Linked DNA regions of Homo sapiens. The protein of the gene in region 1 interacts with the protein of each later gene in a pairwise test. Each region holds a gene or a part of one and is shown in the gene's direction. Other genes may lie near its edges. The genes, in order: LMO3, DRD1, FRMD6, MALSU1, QRICH1, PROS1 and ZRANB1.

Evidence for each region.
Region 2: the proteins of LMO3 (region 1) and DRD1 interact in binary tests that used the Homo sapiens proteins (3 or more experiments, as listed by UniProt).
Region 3: the proteins of LMO3 (region 1) and FRMD6 interact in binary tests that used the Homo sapiens proteins (3 or more experiments, as listed by UniProt).
Region 4: the proteins of LMO3 (region 1) and MALSU1 interact in binary tests that used the Homo sapiens proteins (3 or more experiments, as listed by UniProt).
Region 5: the proteins of LMO3 (region 1) and QRICH1 interact in binary tests that used the Homo sapiens proteins (3 or more experiments, as listed by UniProt).
Region 6: the proteins of LMO3 (region 1) and PROS1 interact in binary tests that used the Homo sapiens proteins (3 or more experiments, as listed by UniProt).
Region 7: the proteins of LMO3 (region 1) and ZRANB1 interact in binary tests that used the Homo sapiens proteins (3 or more experiments, as listed by UniProt).

What each region holds. Positions count from the first base shown.
Region 1 is NC_000012.12:16,547,872-16,551,017, reverse strand, and holds the end of LMO3 (LIM domain only protein 3), read left to right. Parts: 3' UTR 1-2,646; downstream 2,647-3,146.
Region 2 is NC_000005.10:175,441,383-175,445,552, reverse strand, and holds the start of DRD1 (D(1A) dopamine receptor), read left to right. Parts: upstream 1-1,370; 5' UTR 1,371-1,854; intron 1,855-1,970; 5' UTR 1,971-2,453; coding exon 2,454-3,794; 3' UTR 3,795-4,170.
Region 3 is NC_000014.9:51,707,410-51,710,909, forward strand, and holds part of FRMD6 (FERM domain-containing protein 6), read left to right. Parts: intron 1-668; coding exon 669-824; intron 825-3,500.
Region 4 is NC_000007.14:23,302,339-23,305,838, forward strand, and holds part of MALSU1 (mitochondrial assembly of ribosomal large subunit protein 1), read left to right. Parts: intron 1-3,500. UniProt on the Homo sapiens protein: Required for normal mitochondrial ribosome function and mitochondrial translation. May play a role in ribosome biogenesis by preventing premature association of the 28S and 39S ribosomal subunits.
Region 5 is NC_000003.12:49,087,572-49,091,071, reverse strand, and holds part of QRICH1 (transcriptional regulator QRICH1), read left to right. Parts: intron 1-3,500. UniProt on the Homo sapiens protein: Transcriptional regulator that acts as a mediator of the integrated stress response (ISR) through transcriptional control of protein homeostasis under conditions of ER stress.
Region 6 is NC_000003.12:93,893,897-93,897,396, reverse strand, and holds part of PROS1 (vitamin K-dependent protein S isoform 2 preproprotein), read left to right. Parts: intron 1-705; coding exon 706-821; intron 822-3,500. UniProt on the Homo sapiens protein: Anticoagulant plasma protein; it is a cofactor to activated protein C in the degradation of coagulation factors Va and VIIIa. It helps to prevent coagulation and stimulating fibrinolysis.
Region 7 is NC_000010.11:124,948,623-124,952,122, forward strand, and holds part of ZRANB1 (ubiquitin thioesterase ZRANB1), read left to right. Parts: intron 1-3,500. UniProt on the Homo sapiens protein: Ubiquitin thioesterase, which specifically hydrolyzes 'Lys-29'-linked and 'Lys-33'-linked diubiquitin. Also cleaves 'Lys-63'-linked chains, but with 40-fold less efficiency compared to 'Lys-29'-linked ones.

The sequences.
Region 1 (3,146 bases):
AAAGTAATGTACATATGGCTGGATTTTTTTGCTTGCTATTCGTTTTTGTGTCACTTGGCATGAGATGTTTATTTTGGACTATTGTATATAATGTATTGTAATATTTGAAGCACAAATGTAATACAGTTTTATTGTGTTACCATTTGTGTTCCATTTGCTTCTTTGTATTGTTGCATTTAGTACAATCAGTGTTTAAACTTACTGTATATTTATGCTTTCTGTATTTACCAGCTATTTTAAATGAGCTGTAACTTTCTAGTAAAGAATTGAAAAGCAAATCTCACTAATGATACACAGATAGATAAAGCAAGTCTATCAACATTAAAAATACTAAAAAATAAAGACACACACAGAGCATTTTAGTGACATCCACTACTTATTGCCGCTATGAGTTAGAGTCTATCAGTGTTCTTGTTATAACCCCCTATTTTCAGGGGGTTAAAAATCAGCTTTAAAAAAATACATAAAAATTTCATCTTAAAGCACTTTCATTTTATACCAACGTGAAAAGTGCCATTTTTAGAATAACTTTAAAGCTTAACAGGTTTCCTTTTAATATCCTTTTTTTGTGTGCTCTTTACTTACACAATGGCTTTGTTTTGCTTTTTCAGCCACACCCCTTATGTGAACTAGTGCCTTTGGGTATCACGTAAAATTTTTTCCAAAGGGTTACTTTAAAAATCTGTTACCACAATTATGAGATGATTTTTAAGTGATAAATTAAACTTCTTCTTGTATAAATTCTGCCCAGATCTCTCCACAAGAGCTGAGGGTTTCATAACTTTATGGCTTAATAAATGTATGACACTGAAAAGATTTGAGTGTGAATCTACTGAAATCACTATAATGCACATTGAAGCTATGATGGTATTTGAGTAGTGAGGTTACTTTTGATCGGAGCAACATAATGCTCATAGAATCTTCTAGAAGAAGAGAAACAAAGGGATTGATAAAATGCTGAGAACTAGTGATTATATATTTTTCTGTATTTACCTGACATTTATTTTAATGTTCAAAAAGTAAACACTTTAAGTTTGATGTGTTTTACTCTCTCATTGTTTTAAGTAATTGCCAACTCAGAATACATCATTCTTAGGCTGAAATTTGTCTTTCCATTTTTTAAGGTGAAATAGTACTACCTTACGTGATAGCATACAAAGAAGAAAGCTCTAGAAAGAGAAATTATGGAGAATGATTATTTAAATTACAATTAAGGAAATGAGAATATGATCCCCTCTTCCGAGTTGCCCACAAACTTGCTTCTTTGCTTTTGCTCCCTGTAATAGAACTACTTTTCAACAAATCTAATTTTGCACGGCACCGTTAACCATATTTTCACTACAGCAAACTTAGTGCTATGGGTTTTCTTTTTCTTTGTTTTTTTCTTGATCACTTGTATAGGAAACAATATTTTCCAGTGTTATTTGCATATATATTTTGTCCTTCCAATATATGCATTACAGATGAAAATTAAATGTTATACCTGAATTCTTGGGTTGGGGCCAAAATATTAAGCTGAAAATAATGCTGGTGTGGATTTGTTTTAAAACAAAGCTTTATTATGAACATGCATGTGAATCTGGATATTGCCTCTTATTTTTAAGAAAATGGTTCTGTGAAAAGTGAATGATATGTATTTTTCCAAATGCTTCATGGTTAGGAGTCTTCAAGTTCCATGTTCCCCAGATTTGAGATATACTAAAGAAAGAAATTCAAAAGTAGCTATTTGGGGCCCACAAAAATAACTATTATTTTAGCCTTAGAGCCTTACACTTGTTTCATGAAGAGAAAGGACTTGCATAACCAAAATAAACAAAGCAAGACAAATTAAAAATATGTGGGGGAGAGATCAGTGAAAAGTGGTTTTCTTAATGCAGCCCTGCTGGTCCCCATTAACAATTGCTTGAAATTCACATGGATGTAAAATTATAATTGTCAGGATCTTATTCAGATGATCTTTTAAGGTTTAACTGGTTTTGCTTTTGTTTATCTATATGTCAAAATACTTGTAAATTGGGAACAAACTTCTCTCAGCTTCTTGAAGTTGTTCAACTATCCTTGCCACTGGAAGACCAAACAAGGTTTTCACTGCTTTTTCTTTTACATAATATGCTGAGAATTATTTCTTATGCTTTTTACTACAAACAAAATTACTCACCTGGATTAAAGATTAAGGCCTTAATCTGTTTAGATTATCTTTAATCTCCATGAAATCGTGAAATAAGACAAGAATAGTGTTTCAGCTGTAGGCCATTTTACAGCTAATTGCCCATAAATTGTAGCATTTATTGACCTGAAGTACTAAGCTAATTGTCTTGACTACTCAAAGCCCCTGAATTGTTGTCAACTTTCCCCTTTGTGTTGTGTAGCCCTAACGTCATTTAGCTTGTTGTCTGATGCCTCCAGTAGGACACCTCCGATGGAGCTTTGATTTCTGAGCAGCGAAAGCTCCCTTCCTAAGATGCATCTCGCATAGGCTGCCTATGATGAAGGACCGTGCACCTCCACTCCAACAGAGTGCTGAGTTTAAAAGTTGACCTGTGTTTGTAATTTCACTTTCATCTTGCTTAATAAATATCTGCTGGATTCTTTCATTCACTTTTTTACATTTGGATTTATGTTTTTAATAAAAGGGGTGTTACACTATTTGATTGCACTTAATTGGCAAAATTTAAGATGATCTCTAGAAAGCATATGTTAAGTCCATGAAAAGAAAAAAAAGGTGTGTAAGGACATTTACTTTCTAAAGCTAAGTCATAACAAGCATAGACAAAGCACCCCAAATGTTTCTCTGAATGTAATGTTTAGGATCTCTGCGCTAGGTCGTTTACCGCTATTTATTTTTATGGGGAAAATAAAACTCTCAAAAATGAAGGTAGCAATTGCTGGGTGTAATTTTGCACATTTATACAAATTTTAGGTGATCTTTCTGAAAGCAACTCTGTTGCTGTTGTCAGATTAAATTTCAAATTTTCTATTCTGTATAATGAATTAAAACAGGAAACTCAATTCTACATTTTTACAGAAGAGATGTTGCACCTTAACTGAAACAGGGCACTGAAAATTATATCTGTAGTAAAACATGCCATGCAAAAGTGTTTTCCTTTTAACTATCACTTTAGGCAAACCACTCTCTGAATCATCAC
Region 2 (4,170 bases), on another chromosome or scaffold:
GAAGGCACCACAGTGTCGCAATTTATGCACAATTAGTGCAAAGTCTCACCTGTGAGCTTGCCTGGGGCAACCAGGGGAGGCTGGGGGCTCCTTCTCCACCAGGCCCCGCTGCCTCCATATGACTCTTCCCTGTATTTTAGCCCTGTAGGTAATTTTCCAGTTTGTGGGCTCCTGTACCACATGCGGTGAGTTAAAAGAACAGGTGGGCAGCGGCGCGGCTCCCGCGTGAGCTGTGTGACTTTGAGCAGGCCCCACTACCTTTCCGAGCCGCATTTCCACCTGGGCGAAGCGGGTTGAGCCGGCCTGGCGGGGAAAGATTCTTTTAACGGGGGAACAACGTAAGGCGTGCACCGGGGAACACGGATGCTGCTGAGTCAATGCCCGCTCTGCCGTTCTCTTTGAGAGTAAGGCTTGCGTCTCGCCTGCTCTAGCGCCCCAGGTTTGAACGCAGTGGGCGCGCAGGAGGAAACATAGATTCACGAATGCAATGCCAGCAAAGTAAAATTTTTCACCCTTGTCCGTTTTTCAGGGTGTTTCAAGCGGAGGAGTCCTGAGTGGAGAAGATTCCGCTTCCCTGTTTTCAGGTTCTGGCAGTCATGGACCGGGAAGAGCGAGTCGGGGCGCGGGTCCCTGGCGGTCGCTGGAACCCTTGTGAGTGAGGTTGGTGCCCGCGAGGGCACAGCGGGCGCTCGGGAAGTCGCAGCCGCCGGCAGAGGGCGCCCCGGGCACACGGAGCGCGCGGCGCTGGGGTTGGGGCGCTCGGGAGGTGCGGGGCACCGGCTGGAGTCCGGCGTTGACCGCAGCCGGGACGCGCCCGCCACCTGGGCGGGGAAGGAGTGAGTCCCCTCGGGGCGCAGCGGCGCGCGCTGGCCCGGATCCCAGCTGCGCCGCGCCCTCCCTGCGAGCGGTGAGTACAGGCGCCCACGGGCATCTCCAACCCTAGTTAGGGGACACTTGGAGACAACGCAGGTCGGACGTCCGCCGGCCGTTCTAGGAGTTGGTGTGCGGGGAATGGGGGGTGCTCCCGCTCGCTTAGGGCTTTGGGTCCGGCTAGGGGTTGACCCCAAGAGGCGCTGGATGTCGGGGCTGAGCTTTGCTTTCAGGGGACTCAAGCTTACTTGAGGTTCTGACATTGGATTTGCCTCGCGGGCCCTGCGCGTGCTGCGCGGGGATCCGGAGACTGGCGAGGTAACCAGGGAGGGCAAGCACTCACCGGGGCGTCCTCCGCCCACCTCGCCCGCAGAACCATCCAGGGGGACCACGTGCGGCTGTCGCCCGCAACTCTGCCTGTCAAGCGAGGACCGCCCCCAGGGCAGGGGAGGGGACGCGCGGGCGGGGTGGGCTGTGCCCCGCGGGAACCCCGCCGGCCTGTGCGCTTGCTGGTGCCAGCTCGGCTCGCTGCCTCGCATTGCCACAGGCTCCTGAGAGGTCGCGGGCAGTGCCTGCGGGGAGGCGCGGGGCCCTGCTCTGTAGGGCTGAAGGCCGCCCGAGGTTCGCCAAGGCTCTGGGCTCTCGAAAGGAAGCCAAGAAAAGAAGCTGCCCAGGTGACCAGTCCTGGGAGTGCTCTCTCCCAAGGAAGCTCCGAGCGCCCAGGAGCCCTTAGCCGGGGTCTAGTGCCCTTTGAACAATCTCCAGCTCTTCAAGGAAGTGGGCTGCCGCCGCCTCTCTTGGGACCTGGCCTGGGATCCTTTCCCCAAACGCACCCCGGCGATTTTTGCGCACCGGGAGCCGAACCCCTGCTGCGCGCAGCTGGCTGGGCTCAGGCGCGCTTCCTCAACGTTTCGGAGCCGCTGCCCCCAGCGAAGTCCACATTCCAAGCTCCAGGGGCTTTGAGAGAGACGACCCCAAGGCAAGGTAGGTGGCTCGGACGGGCTCGCCCTGGGAATTATTAGGTTGGGCTTGACGTGAGTAATGATGCCATCTGCTTAAGTCTTGGAGAAAGACCGTGTGTTTTCCTTTTGCTTTTTAAGGCGTTTGGAGAGCTGCTGAGGAGCCAGGGGCTTGGAGGAGCGAGAAGACATGTATTTTCAGCTGAGTCTCAGAAGGGGAGAATCTCCTGTCACCACCAGAAAAGCAACAGCCCCGAAATGTGATTGCAACTGACTAGCAGAGCAGAGGCCCAGGAGTCACTGGATTGATGATTTAGAATATGCTAAAAAGCCAGTGCTTTATTTGGGGAATTCAGGGGCTTTCTGGTGCCCAAGACAGTGACCTGCAGCAAGGGAGTCAGAAGACAGATGTAGAAATCAAGAGTGACCATCCACGGGATTGACTTGGATTGCCACTCAAGCGGTCCTCTCATGGAATGTTGGTGAGGCCCTCTGCCAGGGAAGCAATCTGGCTGTGCAAAGTGCTGCCTGGTGGGGAGGACTCCTGGAAATCTGACTGACCCCTATTCCCTGCTTGGGAACTTGAGGGGTGTCAGAGCCCCTGATGTGCTTTCTCTTAGGAAGATGAGGACTCTGAACACCTCTGCCATGGACGGGACTGGGCTGGTGGTGGAGAGGGACTTCTCTGTTCGTATCCTCACTGCCTGTTTCCTGTCGCTGCTCATCCTGTCCACGCTCCTGGGGAACACGCTGGTCTGTGCTGCCGTTATCAGGTTCCGACACCTGCGGTCCAAGGTGACCAACTTCTTTGTCATCTCCTTGGCTGTGTCAGATCTCTTGGTGGCCGTCCTGGTCATGCCCTGGAAGGCAGTGGCTGAGATTGCTGGCTTCTGGCCCTTTGGGTCCTTCTGTAACATCTGGGTGGCCTTTGACATCATGTGCTCCACTGCATCCATCCTCAACCTCTGTGTGATCAGCGTGGACAGGTATTGGGCTATCTCCAGCCCTTTCCGGTATGAGAGAAAGATGACCCCCAAGGCAGCCTTCATCCTGATCAGTGTGGCATGGACCTTGTCTGTACTCATCTCCTTCATCCCAGTGCAGCTCAGCTGGCACAAGGCAAAACCCACAAGCCCCTCTGATGGAAATGCCACTTCCCTGGCTGAGACCATAGACAACTGTGACTCCAGCCTCAGCAGGACATATGCCATCTCATCCTCTGTAATAAGCTTTTACATCCCTGTGGCCATCATGATTGTCACCTACACCAGGATCTACAGGATTGCTCAGAAACAAATACGGCGCATTGCGGCCTTGGAGAGGGCAGCAGTCCACGCCAAGAATTGCCAGACCACCACAGGTAATGGAAAGCCTGTCGAATGTTCTCAACCGGAAAGTTCTTTTAAGATGTCCTTCAAAAGAGAAACTAAAGTCCTGAAGACTCTGTCGGTGATCATGGGTGTGTTTGTGTGCTGTTGGCTACCTTTCTTCATCTTGAACTGCATTTTGCCCTTCTGTGGGTCTGGGGAGACGCAGCCCTTCTGCATTGATTCCAACACCTTTGACGTGTTTGTGTGGTTTGGGTGGGCTAATTCATCCTTGAACCCCATCATTTATGCCTTTAATGCTGATTTTCGGAAGGCATTTTCAACCCTCTTAGGATGCTACAGACTTTGCCCTGCGACGAATAATGCCATAGAGACGGTGAGTATCAATAACAATGGGGCCGCGATGTTTTCCAGCCATCATGAGCCACGAGGCTCCATCTCCAAGGAGTGCAATCTGGTTTACCTGATCCCACATGCTGTGGGCTCCTCTGAGGACCTGAAAAAGGAGGAGGCAGCTGGCATCGCCAGACCCTTGGAGAAGCTGTCCCCAGCCCTATCAGTCATATTGGACTATGACACTGACGTCTCTCTGGAGAAGATCCAACCCATCACACAAAACGGTCAGCACCCAACCTGAACTCGCAGATGAATCCTGCCACACATGCTCATCCCAAAAGCTAGAGGAGATTGCTCTGGGGCTTGCTATTAAGAAACTAAGGTACGGTGAGACTCTGAGGTGTCAGGAGAGCCCTCTGCTGCTTTCCAACACACAATTAACTCCGTTTCCAAATACATTCCAGTGTATTTTCTGTGTTGTTCATAGTCAATCAAACAGGGACACTACAAACATGGGGAGCCATAAGGGACATGTCTTTGGCTTCAGAATTGTTTTTAGAAATTTATTCTTATCTTAGGATTTACCAAATAGGGCAAAGAATCAACAGTGAACAGCTTCACTTAAAATCAAATTTTTCTGGGAAGAAAATGAGATGGGTTGAGTTTGCTGTATACAA
Region 3 (3,500 bases), on another chromosome or scaffold:
TCAACACCTTTCTCTTAGCCTGCAGCTGCTGGATACTATATATTTGACATCTGAAAGCCCAGAGTACTGTCTGATGAAAATCTAAGTCACAGTGAATCACAATGAGTGTTTGAATGAAACGGTTTTCTCATAAGTATTCCAGCAGTGTTCATATCAGCCTCTTATGCAAGAACCAAAAATGTTTTAGAGAATTTCTCCCAGTACCCTGCCTTCTTTTGATTAACATTTAGAACCTCCCAGTCTGTGGCTGAAATTTTCTTAAGAGTTAGGTAGGATCCAGAACCTGAAGATGTGCCTACTATAGATGTATTTCATGGTACCAAGTATAAACTTGCAAGTATAAACAATTATGTGTACAAAATTATGAAAGTTTGTGTAGTGTTTTTCTCTTGGTGACTTTAAAGCAAAGATAACTTATTTTTCCTATTTGTTGTGATTTTTCTTCTTAGGTATTCAGCAGTACAACTAAATTGACTCTATAGCTTCTAGTATTAGCTGATTTAGCCTAGTAACATAACAGATGGTGAAAACAGAATGAATTTTCAATGCAAACCAACCAGTTTACATGGCCTATTTTAGCTTCTCATTCTTTCATCATTTTGGGGGTGGGGGTAGAACTTACATCTCTCCAACAAATGTTGCATTGCACACCCCTTGTATCCCAACAGGTTGTTTCCAAGAGGGGGAAGGACTACATCCTGAAGCACATTCCAAACATGCACAAAGATCAGTTTGCACTAACAGCTTCCGAAGCTCATCTTAAATATATCAAAGAGGCTGTCCGACTGGATGACGTCGCTGTTCATTACTACAGATTGTATAAGGTATGAAACGGCAACTAAGTCTTCAGCTTCTGAGAAAAAAACATCTTCTCAATAGGATTGAGAAGGAAAACCGAAGGATTTCATTTCCATTAAAACTTATTTCATTTTTTACATGCTTTTAAAAGAGTTTCATTGAACTGCTTTTTGTTATCGCACGTCAGTCTTGGAGGCCATGGTGCTTTTACTCTGGCCTGGAAGCGGGGTGGAGTATTTTTTAATGGTTCTAATAGTGAGATGACAATTGGCTATAAGATGTTAATCTGACTTTTTTAGTGATTATGGCATTGTTATTTCTCTCCTCCCCAAATCTGCTTTTCTGCTTTGGGGAATAGCATTTGCAACTTCTTTGATAAGTAATTTTTAATATTCCTCAAAGTGAAGCTATACCTGCGTTGTATCCGTCAGTTACAAGAACATTACCACAACAGGTAATGTTTATGGAGTCCTGTGTTTACTGGGCACACTTTATATGTGTTTTTTTTAATCCTCATAACTTTATATGAAAGGTACTTTAATCTTTATTTTACAGTCCAGGAAACTGAGGCTTAAAGAGATTAAATGAATCACCTAAGATCACAAAACTAAATGGCAAAGCCAGGATTTAGTCAAGGCCTTCTTGATAACATAGGCTGTGAGCCTAAGGCACTGTATTCCACACGTTCCTCACTCTCGGAAGTTACTCTCCTTTGTGTCCCGTGTATCTCTAGCCTCGTTTTTCCTTTCTGGGGCAGAGGTCACACACCCAAATAACAACTGGGGCCATGCTCTGCAGGGAATCACTCACAGTACTCTATATCATCTTGTCTTCTCTTCCCCTCCTCCTCCTAACCCCTTTCACTATTCCATAAGTGCCACTTTGTTGGCAAGAACTCCTGAATACCCACTTAAGTATTCAAAGGTGTATTCTCAAACCAAATGGATGAAGTGGTTAAGAGCACTGTAAGTTGAGCCTAACTGCCTAGGATTGAATCTCAGTTTGGCCTCTTACTATGTGACCTCAGGCAAGTTACTTACTTAACCGCTCTGTACTTCAGTTTCCCCATAGTTAAAGGGGACAGCAACATACCTGCTTTTTAGGATTGCTGAATACTAAAGGAATTGTTGGATGAAAAACTGCTTAAAACAGTGCCCAGCACATGTTAAGCATGATGTTAAGTTGGCTGCTGTTACCATTACCATTGATAGTATTATGCTTGTTATCTCTACTTTGCCTTTTGTGGTAGGATTAGCATAGCTAGACCATTGGAAACTGGGCTTTAGTTTGGATGTATTGCTCAGTAATCTTGTTAGCTGGTTCAGAAAACTTAAGGGACCAACTGATGTTTTTTCTATCTCTCTTCTATGCCCAAGAGATGCATTATTAATGCCCCATCTTCCTTGAAAGGCATAATTGAGTTCCATAAGATCTGTTTGGCTAAATTCCTAAAGGACTGAGTTGTAATTTTTTTTTAGCCTGAAGAGATTTTATTTGTGACACCTCAATTGACACAAGAAAATGCAAATAAATGACAGTTTTGATAATTAGTTTATATTTTAAAATGTATTAGAAGTATGAATGATATGTTGGAAAGAGTAAGAGTGTGGCTTTGGAATCAGATGTCAATTAGAAACCCTATGTCACTACTCGCTATAGCTGGGATCCTAGGCAACTATAATCCTGAGCTGTCTATTAAGTGGGGATGATACAATATGCTTCACAAGGTTGGGAGGCTTTGGTGAGATAATGAATCTGAAATAATGAGGTGGAATACCTGGCACATTAGTGAGTGCTCAATAACCATTAATTGCTTTTTGCCTTATTTGCTGGGGAAGCTTGCTATTTTAAAGAATCCTATTAAGAAATAAGAATCTTTTGTTGAAGTAGATATCCCCAATTTATCTTCTGTGTAAAACTTAATTTTCAAGTTTACTTAAAGTATGGCGCTTCTGAATTGCATAGAAAATGACTCTTATCTGCTAAAAAGATTTTTAGTAAAAATGTAACATAATGAAGTGGGGGAAAAGATATTGGCTGATTCACAGTTTTTATTCTTTGGAGAAATTCAGCGGCAGCCATTAAATCTGCTTCATTTAGGAGCTGCTCATAAACGGGAAATAAGGTAGACAAAGGACAAGGGAACATTCTGGAAAAAAAACCCGTTTTGTGCCCCTTTCCCACCAATATATACCGTATACTTGAAAACCAGCATTTTTATGAGCATAGCCTTATTTTGGAAAGCAATCTGTACATCCTTGAAAGCGAAATTGACCAAAACTCATATAATGATGGATTAGTTTCTCCTCTTAAAGCTTATGCTATATGTGTTTTTCTTGATGTAAAAATATACTAGTTGGAAAGAAACAGCCTAAATAGTAGAAATAGGCTGTGTCTTATATTTATAATGCCAGGTGAGGACACATGTTTTAAAAATATTTCATCCCATGTTCATGGGAAAGCTGGCACTAAGCTTAAAAAGATCTCTGCATACTCATTGTGTTTATTGGGAAATCTCATAATGAAAATATTTACTTAGTAATTTCATTTCTATTTTGAACTTTATACACTATATATACTTATTACAGATGAGCACTTAAAGGATGTGGCTGAATTTTAAAGTGAATTTTTAATTGTGGAGGTTTTTTTTTCCCCTTATGCTCATTGTAGTTTATTTTCTACAGTTTATGGTTTAGCTGGTA
Region 4 (3,500 bases), on another chromosome or scaffold:
CCTTTCTTAGTCTTAGTCTGTTGAGAATTGGTCATAGAGGAGGCAGTTAAGACCAAAAGAGTAGCCAAAATTGTATAGAGAAAGGTTGTAAAATAAAAAGGTGGGGCCTATACACAAAACCCTGGTACATGACAGAGCAGAAGAAGATGCCAAAAACAGGGTAATTGGAGAGATAGGGAGAGAACTAGGAAAGCATAAAGAAGAGATATACAAAGACAGCATACCAGGGTCTCTATCAGATGTAATAGTGGGATGGAGTCAGAAGACTTAGTGACCATTGGACTTGCGGATGTAAAAAGAATGGGAGGTTTTACAGAGAAGTTTCTGTGAAAGAATAAAGAAATAGAAATTGCCTTTACAAAGATTTTAGATGAGAGAAATGCAAAGGCAAGAAAGTTTTGTTGTTTGTGGTAAAATATATATAACGTAAAACCTACCGTTTAATCTTTTTTTTGGAGACAAGAGTCTCGCTCTGTCGCCCAGGCTGGAGTGCAGTGGCTCGATCTCAGCTCACTGCAGTCTCCGCCTCCCGAGTTCAAGTGATTCTCCGGCCTAAGCCTCCTGAGTAGGTGGGATTATAGGCACCCACCACCACGCTTGGCTGATTTTTCTATTTTTAGTAGAGATGGGGTTTCACCATGTTGGTCAGGCTGGTCTCAAACTCCTGACCACCTCGGCCTCCCAAAGTGCTGGGATTACAGGCATGAGCCACTGTGCCCAGCCCATTTAACAATTTTAAACTGTGTTGTTCAGTAGCTTTAAGTACCTTCACATTGACTTACAATCATTACCACCATCCGTCTCCAGAAATTTTTTCATTTTGCAAAAACGAAACTCTGAACTCATTAAACAATAACTCCCCATTTCTCCTTCCGTAGGCAGCTACCATTCTACTGCCTGTCTCTATGAATTTGACTACTTTTCAGTATCTCATAAAAGTAGAATCATAGATTTGTGACCGACTTATCTGACTTAGCATAATGTCTTCAAGGTTCATCCATGTAGTAGCATGTGCCAGAATTTCCTTCTTTCTTAAGGCTGAATAATACTCTATCTTACGTATATACCACATTTTGTTTATCCCCTTATTCATTGATGGACACTTAGATTGCTTCCACCTTTTGGCTATTGTGAATAATGCTGGTATAAATATGAGTATAGAAATACTGTTCATGAGGCTGGGCGCAGTGGCTCATGCCTGTAATCCCAGCATTTTGAGAGGCCAAGGTGGGCGGATTGCTTGAGCTCAGAAGTTTGAAACCAGCCTGGGCAACATGGTGAAACTCCATCTCTACAAAAAAGACAAAAAATAAAATAAAAAATTGGCTGGGCTTGGTGGTGTGTGCCTGTAGTCCCAGCTACTTGGAATGCTGAGGTGGAGGATTGCTTGAGCCCAGGAGCTTGAGGCTGCAGTGAGCCAAGATTGTACTACTGCACTCCACCCTGGGTGACAGAGCAAGACGCTGTCTCAAAAGAAAAAAAAAAAAAAAAAAGGCTGGGTTCACACTTGTAATCCCAGCACTTTGGGAGGCCAAGGCGGGTAGTTCACCTGAGGTTAGGAGTTCAAGACCAGCCTGGCCAAAATGGTGAAACCCTGTCTCTATTAAAAATACAATAATTAGCTGGGTGTGGTGGAGGGTTCCTGTAATCCCAGCTACTTGGGAGGCTGAGGCACGAGAATCGCTTGAACCTGGGAGGTGGAGGTTGCAGTGAGCCGAGATTGTGCCACTGCTCTCCAGCCTGGGCAACAAGAGCGAAACTCAGTCTCAAAAAAAAAAAAAATTGTTTATGTCCTTGCTTTTAATGCTTTGGGGTATGTGCAAAGAAATGGGATTGCTGGATCATATAGTGATTCTGTTTTTAATTTTTTTTCTGTTCACCAGCCTAGCACAAAGCTGAATGTTTTTAATTTTTTGAGGAGCTCCTGTATTCTTTCATAGTGGCTACACCACTTTACATTTCTCTAGCAGTGCAGAGTTTCCAGTCTTCACATCCTCATCAACAACTTATTTTCTCATTTTGGTAATAGCCATCCTAATGGGCATGACGTGATATCTCATTGTGGTTTTTATTTGTATTTCCCTAAGGATTAGTGATGTTGAGCATATTTTCTTTTGCTTATTGGCCATTTGTATATATTCTTTGAAGAAAAGTCCTTTGCTTTTTTGTTTGTTTTAAAGAGACAGTGTCTCACTTTGTTGCCCAGGCTTCAGTGCAGTGGTGTGGTCATAGCTCACTGCAGCCTGGAACTTCTGGGCTCGAGTGATCCTCTCACCTCAGCCTCCCAAGTTGCTAGGACTAGAGGAGTAGGAGTAGTCAAATTCATAGAGACAGAAAGTAGAATGGTAGGAGTTACTCCACAGTGCCCAGCTAATTTATTTTTTATAGAGACAGGGTCTCACTATATTGCCCAGACTCTTTGCCCATTTTAAAATCAGGTTGTTTGTTGTTTTGTTGTTGAGTTGTAGGAGCTCTCTATATATTCTGGATATTAATCCCTTATCAAATATGTGATTTGCAGATGTTTTCTGCCATTCTGTGGGTTGCCTTTTTACTCTTTAGAGTGTCCTTTGATGCACGAAAGTATTTAATTTTGGTGAAGTTCAGTTTATTTTTTCTTCTGTTGCCTGTGTCTTTGGTATTATATCTAATAAATAATTGCCAAACCAGTATCATGTTTTCCCTATTTTCTTCTAAGAGTTTTATAGTTTTAAGTCTCCTGTTTAGATATTTAACCCATTTTGAGTTAGTTTTTGTAGGCGGTTAGTTTTCCATGTGGACATTTCCTCAGCAACGTTTGTTGGAAGGACTGTCCTTTGTGCATTGAATGGTCTTGGCTCCATTGTTGAAAATCATTTGACCATAGGCACAAGGGTTTATTTCTGGGCTCTGTATTCTGTTTCATCAGTCTGTGCGTCTGTCTTTTTGCCAGTTTCAGACTGTTTTGTTTACCATAGCTTTGTTCTAAGTTTTGAAATCAAGAAATATGAGACTCCAACTTTGTTCTTTTACAAGATTGTTTTGGCTATTTGGGGTTCCTTGAGAGTCCATATAATTTTTTTTTTTTTTTTGAGATGGAGTTTCGCTTTTGTTGCCCAGGCTGTAGTACAGTGGCACAATCTCGGCTCACAGATTCAAGCAATTCTCCTGCCTCAGCCTCCCAAGTAGCTGAGGTTACAGGTGCCCGCCACCATGCCCAGCTAATTTTTTGTATTTTTAGTAGAGATGAGGTTTCACCATTTTGGCTAGGCTGGTCTTAAACTCCTAACCTCAGGTGATGCACCCGCCTTGGCCTCCCAAAGGGCTGGGATTACAGGTGTGAGCCACCGTGTCTGGCCCCACATAAAGTTTAGGTTGGATTTTTCTGTTTCTTCAAAAAATATTGTGATCTTGATATAGATTGCACTGAATCTGTAGACTGCATTGGGTAGTATTGGCATCTTTACAATATTGTCTTCCCATCCATGAATATGAAGTATCTTTCCATTTACTGGCATCTG
Region 5 (3,500 bases), on another chromosome or scaffold:
TTTTGTATTTTTTAGTAGAAACGGGGTTTTACTCTGTTAGCCAGGATGGTCTCAATCTCCTGACCTCGGGATCCTCCCACCTTGGCCTCCCAAAGTGCTGGGATTACAGGCGTGAGCCACCGCGCCTGGCCTATTACCTGTTCTTTTCTGTTATTCTGTTGTACTGCATTTTGTTCCAGATGTTTTAAGTCCTCTTCAGACTTCACTTAAATGCTTCCTTTGTATTTTTTCCTAGTTATTACATTAGATTGTGATTTCTGTTATTAAATTGATGTGGCTGCATGAAGAAATGGTAGATTAATTTCTTCCTTTGCTGAAAGAGGGAAGGAGTGCTCCTTTGGTCTCACTCTTCAGGCCAGGGCAAAACTGTAGGTAGAAATGGTGGCTGTGTCAGAAGGCTAATATTTTTCTCTTTTTCTCTTTTCTCTTTTTTTTTTTTTTTTGAGATGGAGTTTCACTCTTGTCGCCCAGGCTGGAGTGCAGTAGCACGATTTCGGCTCACTGCAACCTCCACCTTCCGGGTTCAAGCAATTCTCCTGCCTCAGCCTCTGGAGTAGCTGGAATTACAGGTGCCCGCCACCACGCTGGGCTAATTTTTTTTTTTTTTTTTTTTGAGACGTAGTCTCGCTCTGCTGCCCAGGCTGGAGTGCAGTGGCACGATCTCGGCTCACTGCAAGCTCCACCTTCTGGGTTCACGCCATTCTCCTGCCTCAGCCTCCCGAGTAGCTGGGACTGCAGGTGCCTGCCACCATGCCCGGCTAATTTTTTGTAGTTTTAGTAGAGACGGGGTTTCACCGTGTTAGCCAGCATGGTCTTGATCTCCTGACCTCGTGATCCGCCCGCCTCGGCCTCCCACAGTGCTGGGATTACAGGCGTGAGCCACTGTGCCCGGCTGATGTCTGGCTAATTTTTTGTATTTGTAGTAGAGACGGAGTTTCACTATGTTGGTCAGGCTGGTCTTGAACTCCTGACCTCGTGGTCTGCCTACCTTGGCCTCCCAAAGTGCTGAGATTACAGGCGTGAGCCACTGCGCCCGCCCATGTTTTTCTTTGTTTTAAAATTTGTGAAATATTTATCCATCCATGTAAATTTAGGCGATCTCTGTACAATTTAATGACAAATTATAAAGTAAATGCTGGCGAAAGTACTACTTTTTCAAGAAATAAAACGATGCCAGTATCTCTGAACCCTTCGTGGGTCCCTTCCTGATCACAGCTTCTCAAGCCGTACAGACAGCTGTTATTCTGTGATAACATTCTTCTTCTTTTTACATTTACCATCTCCGTAGCCCTTAACCTAGTTTAGATTTGTTTCCTTATGAGTTTTGTATAAATGGAGTCATGCTGTATTATGTTGTCTTAGCATAATGTTTCTGAAATTTGTTCACATTGTGTGCAGCTGTTCATTTCCATTTTTTATGTAGTATTCTGTTGTATGAATACACCATAAGGTATTTATCTATTCCACTATTGATAGATATCTGGGTTGCTTCCAGCTTTTGGCTCTTAACAATGCTGCTGTGAACATTCTTGTATTAAGTACCCTTGTTTAAAAAAAAGTTCCTTCATATATACTGATGGGTAAAATTGCTCAGGTTCGTGGAATGGATATTTTCAGCTTCACTAGATAATGCAAGTGGTTGTGCCAGTTTACAATCCGTCAATATTTGGGAAAAATACAAATTTTAGTTTCCTGATTGAAAATAGAACCATGGCCGGGTGCAGTGGCTCATGCCTGTAATCCCATTACTTTAGGAGGCCAATGCGGGCGGATCACCTAAGGTCAGGAGTTCCAGACCAGCCTGGCCAACATGGTGAAATCCCGTCTCTACTAAAAATACAAAAATTAGCAGGGCATGGTGATGGGCGCCTGTAATCCCAACTACTCGGGAAGATGAGGCAGGAGAATCGCTTGAACCTGTAGGCGGAGGTTGCAGTGAACTGAGAGGGCACCATTGCACTCCAAGCTGGGGGACAGAGCGAGACTCCATTTAAAAAAAAAAAAAGAAAAGAAAAAAAGAAAATAGAACCGTGATGAAAATGCCCCTAAACCAGGGACTCCTCTGGCATGGGGCATATAAATGGCCTAATGGGATAACTTCTATCACAAACCCTGCAGTTGGCTAGTATCCTTAAAAATCGAAATATGGGTGGAACACAGTGCCTCATGCCTGTAATCCCAGCAGTTTGGGAGGCCAAGGTGGGAGGATTGCTTGAGCCCCGGAGTTGGAGACCAGCCTGGGCAAGATGGCAAGACCCCATTTCTACAGAAAAATAAAAATAGCTGGATGTGGTAGCATGGACCTGTAGTCCCAGCTACTCGGGAGGCAGAGGCAGGAGGATTGTTTGAGCCCAGGAGTGTGAGGCTGCAGGGATCTATGAATGCACCACTGCATTTTATCCTGGGTAGTGGAGCAAGACCTTGTCTCATTAAAAAAAAAAAAAAAAAAAAAACAGACAAAAGCCTGGTGCAGTGGCTCAGGCATGTAATCCCAGCACTTTGGGAGGTCGAGGGGGGCCGTGGAAATGAACTCCTCACCTGAGGTCAGGAGTTCGAGAACAGCCTGGCCAATATGGTGAAACCCCGATTCTACTAAAAATACAAAAAAATTAGCTGGGCTGGGTGGCGTGCGCCTGTAGTTCAAGCTACTAGGGAGGCTTGAGGCAGGAGAACCACTTGAACCTGGGAAACGGAGGTTGCATTGAGCCGAGATGATGCCATTGCACTCCATCCTGGGTGAGAAAACGAGACTTCGTCTCAAAAAAATAAAAATACAAAGAAACAAAACCCAGGCAAAAGAATAGAAATACGTCAATTCTGGTCGGGCACGGTGGCTCACGCCTGTAATCCCACCACTTTGGGAGGCCGAGGCGGGCAGATCATGAGGTCAGGAGATCGAGAGCATCCTGGCTAGCACGGTGAAACTTTCTCTCTACTAAAAAATACAAAAAAATTAGCTGGATGTGGTGGCGGGCGCCTGTGGTCCCAGCTACTTGGGAGGCTGAGGCAGGAGACTGGCGTGAACCCGGGAGACAGAGCTTGCAGTGAGCCGAGATTGTGCCACTGCATTCCAGCCTGGGTGACAGAGTGAGACTCTGTCTCAAAAAAAAAAAAATAAATGAAATAAAATGAATATATTCACATGGAAAAAAAATCAATTTCCATTTTAAGGAGTCATGTCTGTCTTATAAACATATGGAGTTATTTCAAAGAAGCATAGAAGACATTGTTCTTTTTTTTTTTTTTTTTTTTTGAGATGAACCTCCGCCTCCTGAGTTCAAGCAATTCTTCTGCCTCAGCCTCCCGAGTAGCTGGGACTACAGGCGCATGGTACCCCGCCTGGCTAATTTTTGTATTTTTAGTAGAGATGGGGTTTCACCATGTTGGCCAGGCTGGTCTTGAACTCCTGACCTCGTGATATGCCCGACTCGGCCTTCCAGCGTGCTAGGATTACAGGCATGAGCCACTGCACCTGGCCTATTTTTTTATTTTTATTTTTT
Region 6 (3,500 bases), on another chromosome or scaffold:
TGCTATGTACGTAATTCTCCTCAAAATATCCTCATATGTGTTCAATAATTTGTATGTTAAAAGCTTTTCATTTTAATGTTTGTTTTCACTCGTAGAAAAAAAATACTTGATACCATATGTGATGACTTTAAATAATGTTCTTGTAAATTCCTTGGAGACTATGAGATCTGAATTTATATTTATTTCCTTCATGTTTTCCAGTATTCCCTTTACTATCTAGATAGCACATTCTTGCTCAGAAAACTTTTGCTTAATAAATGAATGAGTGAATGAATGAGGTGCTGTTTATTGGTACATTAATTCTTACACCTATTTCTGACTTCAAATAAAAATAATTTTCAGACATAATTCATGGGAGATAATATACCTGACTGTTAATTAAAGAAATATATATTGGTTCTTGAAGAAAGAGTTTGTGTTTAGGACGAAAATTTGCAAAGGAAGTATTAAAGACAAAGATCGAAAGCCATGCACATTGAACGAGGCTTTAAAACACATGTATTCTTGGAGGTTATACTGATAGATAGACTATACAAGGAAATGGAAGATATGTATTTATTATTACCAAAAATATTCTTAATTATTTTAGTGTATTACAGATGATACATTAGTAACCAAACAAAAATGCATGACCTCACACAAACATTAAGCAATAACCTGTGCATTTTGATTTTCTTGTTGTTTATTTGGTTTCTTTTATTCCAGGTTGTTTCAGTGTGCCTTCCCTTGAACCTTGACACAAAGTATGAATTACTTTACTTGGCGGAGCAGTTTGCAGGGGTTGTTTTATATTTAAAATTTCGTTTGCCAGAAATCAGCAGGTGAGGAACCAATACCAATGATAATTTCTAGAGGTTAAGCAGATAAGGGCAGAAGAAAAGTGGCCGAAAAGGTTTGAAGTGTGTGAAATTGTATTACCTATCAGATAATGTAGTCATATTACCAATCAGATGACTTGGGGAAACCTAAAGTTAATTTACTCCTTCACACATGTAATTTTCATCCTAAAACCTTTTTGAGTCATTCTAGGCTGACTTTCCCCAATGAACATTTTACATTATTCCATATTATTCCTTTTGTAGAAAATGCATATTTACTAAGAAGCTGGGAAAGTAGATTTAATGTACTTGTGAAATTTCCATTATTCTTTACACATGTTATGAAAACCAGGTAATAAAAAATACTCAGTATTGCTTTTAGAATATCATTATATTCAAAATTATTAAGGAAAAAATTTAAACTTGCTTAAGTGGCATTTTAAAGACATATATTACATAATTTTAGTTGGCTGTCTAAATACTTTATCCATTATTATCGTACTTAGATTGAGTTCAGAAATGAAGTAAATGCTTATGTTTTTTAGTCATGATTCCACTTATTTTTATAGCAATGTTTATGATCCAATTTTTATTTTATTATATTTATTTATTTTTGAGACAGAGTCTTGCTTTGTTCCCCAGGCTGGAGTGCAGTGGCGCAATCTCGGCTCACTGCAACCTTCGCCTCCCAGGTCAAGCAATTCTCCTGCTTCAGCCTTCTGAGTAGCTAGGACTACAGGTGTGAGCTGCCACACCCAGCTAATTTTTGTATTTTTAGTAGAGACAGAGTTTTACCACGTTGCCCAGGGTTGTCTCAAACTCCTGACCTCAGGTGATCACCTCAGGTGATCTGCCATAATTGTACTTCAGTTATCAGATTTTCTCAGAAGCATACATTGCTGGAAGTAGAAGAAAGAAATTGGATTTTTTTTGGAATAATGAGAAGGCAAAATACTTGAGACAGATTATACAGTTCAAATTTTAAAATATTTTAATTAAATAAGCATGTATGTTTAGAACTTGATGTTAGATACATGAATGATTATTCATTAAATAATTCAACTAAATTCATAGACGTTATTAAAAACATTGAAAATTATTCTAAGATCAATAACTTACATAAATACTTAAGTAACAGTGCTCCTTCCACACTTTATTTCTGCCAATATGTGGTTTTTTCCTTTAACATCACAGAGCAACTAATATCTTCTAATGATAGAGATTGGAGAAAACTCTTCCCTGCTATGAGAATAATAATGAGAGAAAAATATTAGTTCTAGTAAATAACACTTTTAGGAATACAATTGATCCTCCAAATCCTTGAGTTCCTCATCTGTGGATTTAACCAACCTCGGGTAGATAATATTCAGAAAAAAACACAATGACAATACAATACAAAATAATACAAATGAGACACAATACAGTATGACAACTATTTACATACATTTGCATTGTATTGAGTATTATACATAATGTAGAGACGACTTAAAGTACGTGAGAGGATGTGCATAGGTTATATGCAAATACTATGCCATTCTATATAAGGGACTTGAGCATCTGTGGATATTGATACCATCCAGAGGTCCTGGAGCCAATCTCCAGGAGTTTGTTCATTTCTCACTGACGATTCATAGTAGTTTGATCTCTAACATGGGATCAGAATTGGACAAATTATTTTTTCCAGAATTTATTATTTATTTATTTTAAACTTTTCATTGAAATATAAAGTATGTACCGATATGTACACATTAGATTAAATGTATAGCTTGATGAATTTTTATAAACTGCCCCTTGTGTGATCAACACAAAGAATAGCTAGTGCTTTTATTTATTTTTGCAAATTTCTTGACGTCTGTTGCTCATGATCAAATACTTTCCCTCCGTAAATGTCAACAAATTCATTCTATTTTCCTGTTTACCATGCTTGTGAAAAAGAATGAATTGTTCCCCATTGTAATGAATCAATATGCTGCTGATATATTCCAGAAACAAAATATGCAGAACATGACCCTTTGAAACTATGATTTCAGCCTGATTTTACAAAGAAAAGGAAATTATCTCCATAATAGAATCAACTGCTGGAAGATCCTGAGCATACACAGATTTGGATTTTGGCAAGATAATATTGCTTCACATCAGCAAAATGCTCAGATAATTATGAAAGAGCATAGAAGTCCTTATTCCAAGCAAAATTGTTCTTTTTTTCATAATCTGAGTTCAGTAAATTCCTACTACATTGTTATCCATCCAACATACTTTACTCCACATTTTACCTCTTTTTAAATATTTCTTTGGAATTCTAAAGATGAAAACATTCATTTTGTCACCTTTTCTTTGTTCCATTTGAGGGAGATACGTGCCCCATTGCAAATGGTGCCTCTATTACTATTACTATTTTACTATATTGCGGTAAGAGTGTGGGATTCTGTCCTGCCTAATATAGCAATTATCTGAAGTCCAGACTCTTTAACTTAAATTGCCTTTATTTTAAGTTAGGTGACTAATAGTTATACACCTATTGTTCCTTTTCCCTGTTTGTCTTTCGTCAATCATGTGGATTTGCTAGTCCCTTGGAAACTTCAATGCTGATTCTCATTGAAGTGTTTTAAGGATACTGAATCAACACATGTTATTTTAAGTCCTGCATCCTAAGACTTTTCTCCCCTGTAATAGCTACATATA
Region 7 (3,500 bases), on another chromosome or scaffold:
GTCCTCCATGACTGCCGTATCTAAAATTTCATCCCTGTCCATTATCCCTCCCCACAGCATTAATTTTCTTCATAACACTTCTAATATGCTTCATCATCTTGTTTATTATTTGTCTCTCTCTACTCTAGAATTTAAGCTTCCTGAGGGCCAGTAATTTTATGTTTTGTTCAAAGCTGTATCTTAGTATGTACAACAGTGCCTGCTACATACATACTAGGCACTCAGGTATTTTTATATCAATGAACGAATGAATATTTTTGGGAACTAGGGTCTGGGCAAACCTTTATCCTACTCCTCCTATGAATTTCTAGATTCTTTGCCTGCTTCCTAGCTCTCTATGTTTTTCAATAGTTGGGGCTCAACCCAGGAGAGCCAGTTTTACTTCTCACTGGTTGTCAGGAAGACTGAGGTAAGTAGTGGGTATGAAAGGGTCTTACAGGAAAGGGTATAGAGGCTTCAGTTTATCACCAGGCAGTCTATGGACATGAAAAGTCTAAAGTCAGGTTTATGTTTAATTTCTCTACCTCCCTACTTTCACTCATGGCAATATTTGTTTTTTCAAAAAAATCATTCTATGTGTTTGCTATAACTATCAAATGAGATTTTTACTTGAAATATTTTATTCAGTTGTCATTGGACCTGCTGCTTCCTAGTTGGCGTTTATCTTACTTCCTAAACAATAGCTGCATCTTTCTTAAGTTTAGGAGCTGAGATTTGGTTGGGGCTGTTGAAGGTATAGGGGGAAAAAAATCAAACTTAAGTAACAAGTTCACATTGAAACTATGTATACACATATATATGTATATATATATGTTTACACACATATGTATATATATATGTTTACACACACATATATGTATATATATTCACGTATACACACACACACACACACACACACACATTTTTTTTTTTTTTTTGAGACAGGATCTTGCTCTGTTGCCCATGCTGGAGTGCAGTGGTGCGATCACAGCTCACTGCAGCCTTGACCTCCTGGGCTTAAGCAGTCCTCCCACCTCAGCTTCCCTAGTAGCTGGGCGTACAGGTGTATACCACCATGCCCCGCCAATTTTAAAAATGATTTGTAGAGATGGGGTCTCTCTGTGTTGCCCAGGCTGGTTTCAGACTCCTGGACTCAAGTACTGGGACTGCAGTTGTGAGCCACCACCTGGCCTGAAACTGGAATTTTTATGCTGAAATACTCAGTTGCCCAATAGCAGTGGTATGAACAGCTTTCACTATAGGGAATATGTGAATCAGTAATGCCTCCCGGTGCTCTGAAGTTTTGGGGTGACGTGAAGTGCACATGCAGTGGTGTTCCCTGTTGAAAATCAATGACTTACGGACTGAACCAGAATCTCTTCTTTATCAAGTAGCAGGATGAAGTGGCATCATGAGGATTATAATTCTGATGGTTTCTGAGCAAAATTTGTCCCACTTTCAGAATTTTGACATGTCTGTAAAGACTTAGATGATTTTTATTGTTTTATTTTTTAATTAATTAACTAATTAACTTTTTTGAGGCAAGGTGGTCTCACTGTCTCCCAGGCTAGAGTGCAGTGGTGTGTGATCTTGGCTCACTTCAATCTCTGCCTCCTGGGCTCAAGCAATTCTCCTACCTCAGCCACCCAGGTAGATGGGACTACAGACGTGCACCACCACGCCTGGCTAATTTTGCATTTTTTGTAGAGATGAGGTTTCCCCTTGTTGCCCAGGCTGGTCTCAAACTCCTGGGTTCAAGCAGCCCGCCCGCCTCGGTCTCCCAAAGTGCTGGGATTACAGGTGTGAGCCACTGTGCCTGGTCTTACATGATTTTTAAAACATAGAACATGTATTGGTAACGTTTTCTTATATTAGTTGTCTGCAAAAATATTGTTATATTTAATCTATTATTTTCCCTTTTCTCATAACTTAATTGTGTTGAGAATCAATGTTTGAGGCAAATCCATTTGGATTCTAATTGTATTTGGGCCTCTTGCCAGAAATCCGTATAACGTGTCATATGGTGTCTGTCCACTCTAGAGTGCCAAGTGTAACTCTAGAAATATCTAAATATTTCCACAGTTTCTGGATGGGTCTGGATATGGTGGCTCAGTCCTGTAATCCCAGCACTGTGGGAGGTTGAGAAGAGGGGAGGATCGTTTCAGCCTAGGACTCTAAAACCAACCTGGGCAACTTGGCGAGACCTCGTCTCTATAAAAAATAAAAAAAATTAGCAGGACATGGTGGTGTTCCCATGTGGTCCCCACCTATGCAGGAGGCTGGGATGGGAGGAACACTTGCGCCCAGGCTGCAGCGGGCCATGATTGTGTCACTGCATTGCAGCCTGGGTGACAGAGCAAGACCATGTCTTAAAACTTGCATGGTATTAAATATGTCAGAAGGTATTTGTCCATTTGGTTTTACTTACACACCTTGTTTAAAAAAAAAAATAGCAAAGTGTAGGCGTATTACATTTTAAAATATTCTTTTCAATTTGTTTTGGTATTGATATTAAGAATTACGTATATAGATGGACATTTACAATTTGTCAGAGGTTTTTCTCAAGTAAATTATTAAATTAGTATTACTTTTTTCTCTGGAGAAACAAAACCGTTGCAAAATGTAATCTTCTATAATGATTTTTTTAAAAAAAGTTTCTACTGTTGAAATATGTGCCTGGTGTAATGAAAGGGAGGTTGTACAATAATCCAAACAAAATTAAATTAACTTCTGTGAAGGAAAAGTCATTTAGTTTTTGAGAGATTATATTCCTTTGAACTGGAATGATTTTAAAGTGATTTATATTACCAAGAAAATTACCATGTCAAAACGGAAAAGGAAATCCTTGCATTGGACACTGGTGATTTTGCCCATTTAAGACATCTTTGGGGTGACTTTTTAACTTGAGAGAAAACTCAGGGCATACAAACGATTGTGAAGAAAAAAATAGAAGAGGCTTCTATTCTCTAGTTCATTACTCCTTAGCTTTAAAAATTATTTCTTTCACAAGGATATTTTATTGATGACTTACCTGAAGGCACAAAACATTTGGTGTTTTTAAAAACACACCATCTGCTGGTCGCGGTGGCTCATGCCTGTAATCCCAGCACTTTGGGAGAGCGGGGCGGTCGGATCACTTGAGGTCAGGAGTTCAAGACCAGCCTGGCCAACATGGTGAAACCTCGTCTCTACTGAAAATACAAAAATTAGCTGGGTGTGGTGGCGGGCATCTGTAATCCCAGCTACTTGGGAGGCTGAGGCAGAAGAATCTCTTGGACCTGGGAGGCGGAGGTTGCAGTGAGCTGAGATCATGCCACCGCACTCCAGCCCGGGCAACAAAGTGAAACTCTGTCTCAAAATAAATAAATAAATAAAAACAAAAAAATAAAAACAGTATTGATGAAATAAGTTATAATGTCCAAATTTACATTTTTAACTTGCCCATTGACTTCCTTATAGGTTCATCTCCCTCTACCCCCTCTTTGGGCTTTTTGGGTGATTTGCATGACCAATATAAATAG